2 linked regions of the Homo sapiens genome follow. The protein of the gene in region 1 interacts with the protein of each later gene in a pairwise test. Each region holds a gene or a part of one and is shown on either strand. Other genes may lie near its edges.

The links.
Region 2: the proteins of SATB1 (region 1) and CBS interact in a two-hybrid assay, tested with the Homo sapiens proteins (one large-scale study listed by BioGRID).

Annotation. Positions count from the first base shown.
Region 1 is NC_000003.12:18,415,303-18,419,122, forward strand, and holds part of SATB1 (DNA-binding protein SATB1), read right to left. Parts: intron 1,777-3,820; coding exon 1,600-1,776; intron 832-1,599; coding exon 705-831; intron 1-704. UniProt on the Homo sapiens protein: Crucial silencing factor contributing to the initiation of X inactivation mediated by Xist RNA that occurs during embryogenesis and in lymphoma.
Region 2 is NC_000021.9:43,055,615-43,059,006, reverse strand, and holds part of CBS (cystathionine beta-synthase), read left to right. Parts: intron 1-38; coding exon 39-173; intron 174-599; exon of another isoform or gene 600-716; intron 717-753; coding exon 754-862; intron 863-2,119; coding exon 2,120-2,204; intron 2,205-2,907; coding exon of another isoform or gene 2,908-2,949; intron 2,950-3,392. UniProt on the Homo sapiens protein: Hydro-lyase catalyzing the first step of the transsulfuration pathway, where the hydroxyl group of L-serine is displaced by L-homocysteine in a beta-replacement reaction to form L-cystathionine, the precursor of L-cysteine.

The sequences.
Region 1 (3,820 bases):
GACAGACAGATTTCATTTTGCGCATCAAACAGATGCATCTGGAGATTGCTCTCGGTCTCCTGATTGTTCCGATTAGTTAATTACTTTATACAACACATCTGCTGTATCGATGCATGAATTATACATCAGCTGCCTGTGGTGGCTATTTTTTCATGTTACTTCTACCTTCCTGCTCTGATGCGCTTGGGAAGACAATTTAAGGTGTACTGCTTTCTCCTGAGCCATCATGAAAAGCTTTAATGTATTAACCGATTTCCTTTCATTACTCTGTTCATATGAATTAAAAATCATAAAAAAATAAATAAATAAATAAGACTGTGGTAATAGTGAATAAGACAGTCTTTCACAAAATGTACACAGATGGCACTGTTCATGATATGCAAAAATATTTTTTTCTTAAGTAAACTTTATGTAAAATGCCTTCTTGTGATGCATTATTTAATTGACTAAACGTAAAAAGTCTTGTCTTTTGATAACCTGCACAAACCTACACATTTTTTGTGTGTGTGGGGGGGGGGATTGCTTTTAAATTATACATTGAAGTTAGGAAAAAAGGCAGAAGGATAGGGTAACAAAATCGATCTGTATTAACCTTTCTGAAACACAGACTAAAAAAAAATTGAAGGTCGACCAGAGAGAAATGCTTCATTTCAAAAGACCAGGTAAGAAGAATGTTTCACCCTAGATTTGCTGTCTTGACTCACCTGTGTAACTGAATTTTCAATGTGACCACATGATACACATCTTGAAGCATATCTGCTACTGTAGCATCAGGGGCATCTGTCACGTAAGACAGTGGAACTGGATTCCACTTTCCAACCTGGATTAGCCCTATTTCAGATAAAGAGAATATGTCACTAAATATTTTACCCTCAGATAATATATCTACTAGAAGGGTGTTCTTTTCTTTTCTACTACCCCTACCACAAGCAGTACCGTTATTTCTGTTTGAATGATTCCCTTCCCTCTAAAAGGCAGGTCAATGAAAATATTCACAGCTTAGCTTTCCAAATTGTAAAATTATGTAAATGACTGTAGGGTTGTTTATTATTTTGGAAATAAAACCCCATCAATAAAACCTATGCATAAGGCCACATTTTCCTAACTTACAGGAAGTTCTAATAAGACATAGCCGAACCAGTTCTAAATGGCTTTATGATTTAGATAAGATTCTCTATTGCAGTGGGAATCAGCATTGAAAAATACTTTGCAGCCCATAAAACCATCAGAAACAGAATAAAAGAAACAGAACTAGATATTCAGTCATAAATGCAAATTGACTCTCAACAGTCCATCTGCTCAAATACGCTCCTCACTTCCTTGTGGGTCCTCAGTGGAGCAGATTATTAAGGTCAATAAGCATACTAATGATTCAGCTGAAGTAATTTAAAAAAAAAATCTACCTCGACATTCCACATGAGCAAAATGTGTGTTAACTAAACCAAACTGAATTAAGCCAATTTTTTAAAGCCACAGCCTATAAGGAACCAATGTAATACACAGGCTACAGTTCTTTGAATAAAAATATTCAGTGCTTTCTCTGCAAGGTAAACAAAGAATGCTAAGCAATTTTTCCAACCCCACGTACACATTATTTACCTTTGGCCTGGGCAGCAGAGCTATGTGAATAACCTAGAGACAGCAATGCCATTTCGATCAGCTGGTTGAAAAGCATATCCTTTCTCACCAGCACAAATTCTGCATGCTCCTCCTTGCAATCATATTCAATGGCGTTTTCATAATGTTCCACCACACAGAAAACTGGCAGCATGGTTCCTATCAAAAAGATGAAGAAGAAGAGATGGAAAACCAACAATCTTCAGAAATACAGCTTGGGGGTGGCGGGAGGAAATATTAGCCATGAAAATAAATAATCACAAGAGATTCACTGTGCTTCCAAGGCAGACTGGGTACAGTACAGGCAAATGCACACAAATATATACATTCTCATATTATTTAAAGTCGTAACAGAAATATTTAAGTAGAATATGAACTTGGTCCTAAGGTAAGCTGTGCTCTAAATTAACAGTGCATTTTCCAAAAGCAATGAATGCAGAATTACCTTTCTGATCAAATAATAATGGTGACGAAAGAGAAATAAATGTATCTTCTCTAATTTGCTATGAGTAGTATACAGTATGCAAACATAACTCACCATTTATCTTCAGAAGAACCCACCTTTCTACTGCTTACATGATTTTGTTAATAATAAACTTTTCCTGGGTTTGTGTCCAAACAAATTATCTTCGACCACGAAATTTTCATTTTCTTCCTTTTTTAGATATTAACTCTAACTGGTTCCACAAATCATTTTCTTCCTTTTTTAGATATTAGCTCTAACTGGTTCCACAAAAAGTACTTAACCAAACTGGTGCTCATAATACACAATTTCAATATCTGCATAATGTAGAAAAATAACATTTGCTTTTATGAATACTCATTTAACCTACCTAACTAAAAAGAGAGCACGGTACCCATAAGTCTTTAAAATCAACAATCTTTGTTACAGTAAATAAGGTAAAAATGAGAGATAGAAAAGGAAACTGACATACTAGGATAAAGGAATCTGCATAGATTTGGTGTGCTCTCTCTTTATATATTTTAATCCAATACAGTAACTCAGTAGCTAGATGATTAATAAGCACCGGCCACACTACTATTAGAAAGAGGCTTCTTCTAGAAATTGATATTACGGAATGCTGTGGTACTCAAGGTGTTTATGCAGCGCACTGTCAGACTTCCAATGATAACGGAAAAGGGTTAAAAGCAGATGCATCTGAATTGTACTGTGGCAAACTGCCAGAAGGGTATCATCTTTAGCATAAATGATGACAAGGGTTACTTTAACAGGGCACCCAGGATCCACAATTAGTCCTACAATACTAATGCCTCTATAAGCTCTGTCCTCTGGACTCACAGAATCCTACCAACTTCTGAAGATGACTTAGTGCACACCAACCGTAGCTAAAAATCAGGATTTCCTACTGACACCAGAGAGGCCCTTCAAAGATTCTCTATTTGCTTGTTTCTGCTGAACAAAAGCCGGCAATAAAACAGCTACATCTTTCTACATGTGAGTCTTCACCAAAGCTTTAGTGAACTGTTCACAAGAGATTCTAGGTCTGACAAAACCCTTTAGGTTTACTTAGAAAAACTCACAAACTCATTCGGAGGTACCAATAGGCTAGGCATGAAAAACAAGCCGCAGAGCTTGCCAATATTTTTGTCATTCATTCAGCTGTTTTATACCAGAGAAAGAACCCGTCGGGGATCAGAAGACAACTTGGGGAGACCACAGCAAAAATAGCAATATGCAAACTGGCGATTCCTTCCTTGGCTTGAAGGTATTCTGGCAAAATCGCCTAAACAAATAAAACCATTCAATCCCTTTTTCTTAGTAGTGTTTTCTCATCTCAGCCATAATTTTCATTTAGCACCTATCAGACAGAAACCATGCACATGAAAAATAAGATGAAAATGTTAATAAAAACCCACAAAAAGACTTTAGTAATTTTGTTATTTGGAGTATCTGAGACCCTCCTACAATTAAACTGCATTTTTAGAATACATCCAAAACAAAACAAAACAAAACCAAAAAGCATTTGAGCAGGAAGTGAATTTACTGTACTTTTAGTTTTCCTCCTCCTGTCCTGATATCTTCAAAGAGTTGGGTAAGTACAACAAAAATGTACACATTCATTTTTCCTTTTGTAGGATGAATCAGATGTATTCTACAATATGCTTTTCCTTAGATCTATGAAATAACTGCAGGGTTTTCAAACTATTGAAATATATTGGATTTATTGTGGATTTTATTGAT
Region 2 (3,392 bases), on another chromosome or scaffold:
CCTTATCCTGATCCCCCCGACCTGCCCTCTTCCCTCAGGTGGTGGCACCTCCGTGTTCAGGAGCTGGGCCTGTCAGCCCCGCTGACCGTGCTCCCGACCATCACCTGTGGGCACACCATCGAGATCCTCCGGGAGAAGGGCTTCGACCAGGCGCCCGTGGTGGATGAGGCGGGGTCAGTCTCAGCCCCTGCTCAGAGCTCAGTCCTGGGTTCTGTCTGCCCAGCTCCACCCCGTCAGTGTCACTGGACAGGGCAGCCATGCAGACCCTGCAGCTGGGCTGATAGGCCCGCCTGGGCCGCCTCATACAGACGTTCAGGGCATTGGAGGCCCCTTGCCGGTCCCTGAGCAGCCTGGGGCAGGGCTGCCGTGCTCACTCCAGGCCCTCAGACCTCAGCCCACCCACCCTTTGTGTGCAGGCTGTCCTGGGCCCACCTGGAGGTCAGGGGAGAGATGCCCCGAGGACATGTCTGACAGCAGAAAGCCTTGGCACACATGCCCAGTGACCACTGAGAGCCCCACGTCGCGGAAACCTGACGGCTGGTCACCCTTGACCCTGGCTGAACGGGTCCAAGGACTCTTGGTTTCTTTCTCCCCACCAGGGCCCAGACTGGTTCCTGCCGCGTGTAGGCTCGTGGCAGAGGACTTCCATGTGTGGCCAGAGAGCGCTCCTCCCTGGGGCAGCTGAGCGTGTGCCCCACCGTCCTGGGAGGGGTGAGGTATGAGCGCTGACCCCTGCCTGCCCCCGTCCCACAGGGTAATCCTGGGAATGGTGACGCTTGGGAACATGCTCTCGTCCCTGCTTGCCGGGAAGGTGCAGCCGTCAGACCAAGTTGGCAAAGTCATCTACAAGCAGTTCAAACAGGTACCCAGTCACCTACAGGCAGCTCAAACAGATGCGCAGTCACCTACAGGCAGCTCAAACAGGTGCCCGGTCACCTACACGCAGCTCAAACAGGTGCGCGGTCACCTACAGGCAGCTCAAACAGGTGAGCGGTCACCTACAGGCAGCTCAAACAGGTACCCGGTCACCTACAGGCAGCTCAAACAGGTGCGCGGTCAGCTACAGGCAGCTCAAGCGGGTGCGCGGTCACCTACAGGCAGCTCAAACGGGTGCCCAGTCACCTACAGGCAGCTCAAACGGGTGCCCGGTCACCTACAGGCAGCTCAAACGGGTGCCCGGTCACCTACAGGCAGCTCAAACGGGTGCGCGGTCACCTACAGGCAGCTCAAACGGGTGCCCAGTCACCTACAGGCAGCTCAAACAGGTGCGCGGTCACCTACAGGCAGCTCAAACAGGTGCCCGGTCAGCTACAGGCAGCTCAAACAGGTGCGCGGTCACCTACACGCAGTTCAAACAGGTGCGCAGTCACCTACACGCGGCTCAAACAGGTACTCAGGCACTTCGGGACCCCAGAGGGTGCCAGAGTACTCCAGCCTCGAAGGCGGGACACCGCGCTTCCCGTGTGGGGGTGCTGGGTCCTCGACCCTCAACACCACTTAGGCCGAAGCTGGCTGCACCCCTCAAACCATGAAGCTGAGAAGCACCCACTTTACAAGTGCAGCAGCCGGAGAGCAGGCTCTCATCAGTGCAGGCTCATCCACACCAGCCGTGTTTTGGGGACTTAAGGAGGTCATTCGCGCTCAGAGGCTGTCCCGGGCACCATGCGGCGTCTGCCGGGGTCTTTCTCCTGCCCAGCCTCATTTGCCTGTGCATGCACTTGGTTATCCAACAAGAGCTAGAACATTCTGGGAGAAGCCCACGGTGGCTCCTTGCCGGGCTGGTCAGACTCCGTGGTTGTCCTGAGACACCCACCCTCTGCTGCCCTGAGGGTGGCCCAGGAAAGTTTGTGTGACCTTCCACACGGATCCCCTGGGACATGCAGGTGTGGCTCTTGACACTGGAAAGGCTGAGGGTTCTGCCCAAACCTAGGAGTGAATTCGACTTCTTTCCCATCTCACACACACACCCGAGACGTCACCCGAATCCACGTATTTCCCACGTTCGGCTGCCACTGCCTCCCGGGTGGGCTTTGCAGGACCCACCATCGCATCCCCTCTCACTCCACAGAAAACTCGTGGGGCCATGTTCCCCCTGCCACTGACCACGCTTCCCTTGCAGATCCGCCTCACGGACACGCTGGGCAGGCTCTCGCACATCCTGGAGATGGACCACTTCGCCCTGGTGGTGCACGAGCAGATCCAGTGTGAGTGGGGCCCTGCTCTGTGCGTGGGGTTCTCACTGGGGTCAGGCCACCAAGCCTGGCCTCTGCCATGGGCAGCAGCTGGGCCCCCCATCCCCTGCGGGGTGTTAGGGGAGTGGGTGGTGCCGACCTTCAGTGACACCCAGTCTTTATGCCTGGGCCTCCCACATGCCCTGGGCTGGTGGGCTGTACCTGTGATTCCTGCAGGGACCCCTCATCAGGCCACACTGGGTAGGGCCCTTTGTCCAGCATGCAGAGGCTCAGGAGTCCAGGCCCCTTGCCTCCGGGGAGGCCAGCAGTCTTGGGGATTCTCAGGGACAAGCCCAGAAACATCTAGAAGGGTTTCAAGTCCTGACCCTGGCATTCGGAGGGCTGCTCTGAATGGAAGCCTCATGTGGGTCTCACAGGAGCCACTGATGGGCTGTCCTCAGAGCCCCGCTCCCAGCAAGCTCATGAGGTTTTGCAACTCCTGAGCGCATCCCCGGGCGTCCCCACCACATCCCCACAGGCCAGGAGAGTCGCTCGCAGGTTTTGGGTCATAGATGGCAGCCCTGGGCCTGGGGCCCACAGGAAGAGTTGGGAGGGGCCCTGGAGCCTGGAGCCTGCCCACCCACCAGGCCTGTGTGCAGGGGGTGAGCGCTCGGTGGCTGAGGCTGGTCCGTGAGGGCCCCAAGTCTAACCCCATCTCCCGTCCTTGGCTCTGCAGCGCAGGACCAGGCCTGGGCAGGCGTGGTGGGGGGGCCTGCAGGTAGGTATCACCCACCCCTCAGAATGGCTCTCAGGCTCAGATTCACAGCCTCCCCATGGCAAATGGAGGCCTTCCAGGGTCCTGGACCCACCCCCAAGCTTGGGTAGGAGGGATCCCCCTCTTAATCTCACATTTACTTGTGTTTGAACATCTCAGAAAAAAAAAAAGATGCAAATTCCAATGTCAGGGTCCCCAAATCAAGTCTTCCTGGAGCATGTCCACGCTTGTCACCACCGTCTGTGGCTGCTTTCAAGCACGTCAGGGCTGCGTGCTCATAACAGAGACGGCACGGCCCCCAAGACCTAAAATACCACCAGCTGGCCCTTGTCGGAAAGTCCCCTGGCTGGCCCTAGTCCATTGACTCTGGGCCGAGCTGCCAGGGCCACAGAAGCCTGCGGCACTCAGGGCTCCCAGGGCTCCCTTCTCCAACAGTTGCTGTGCCT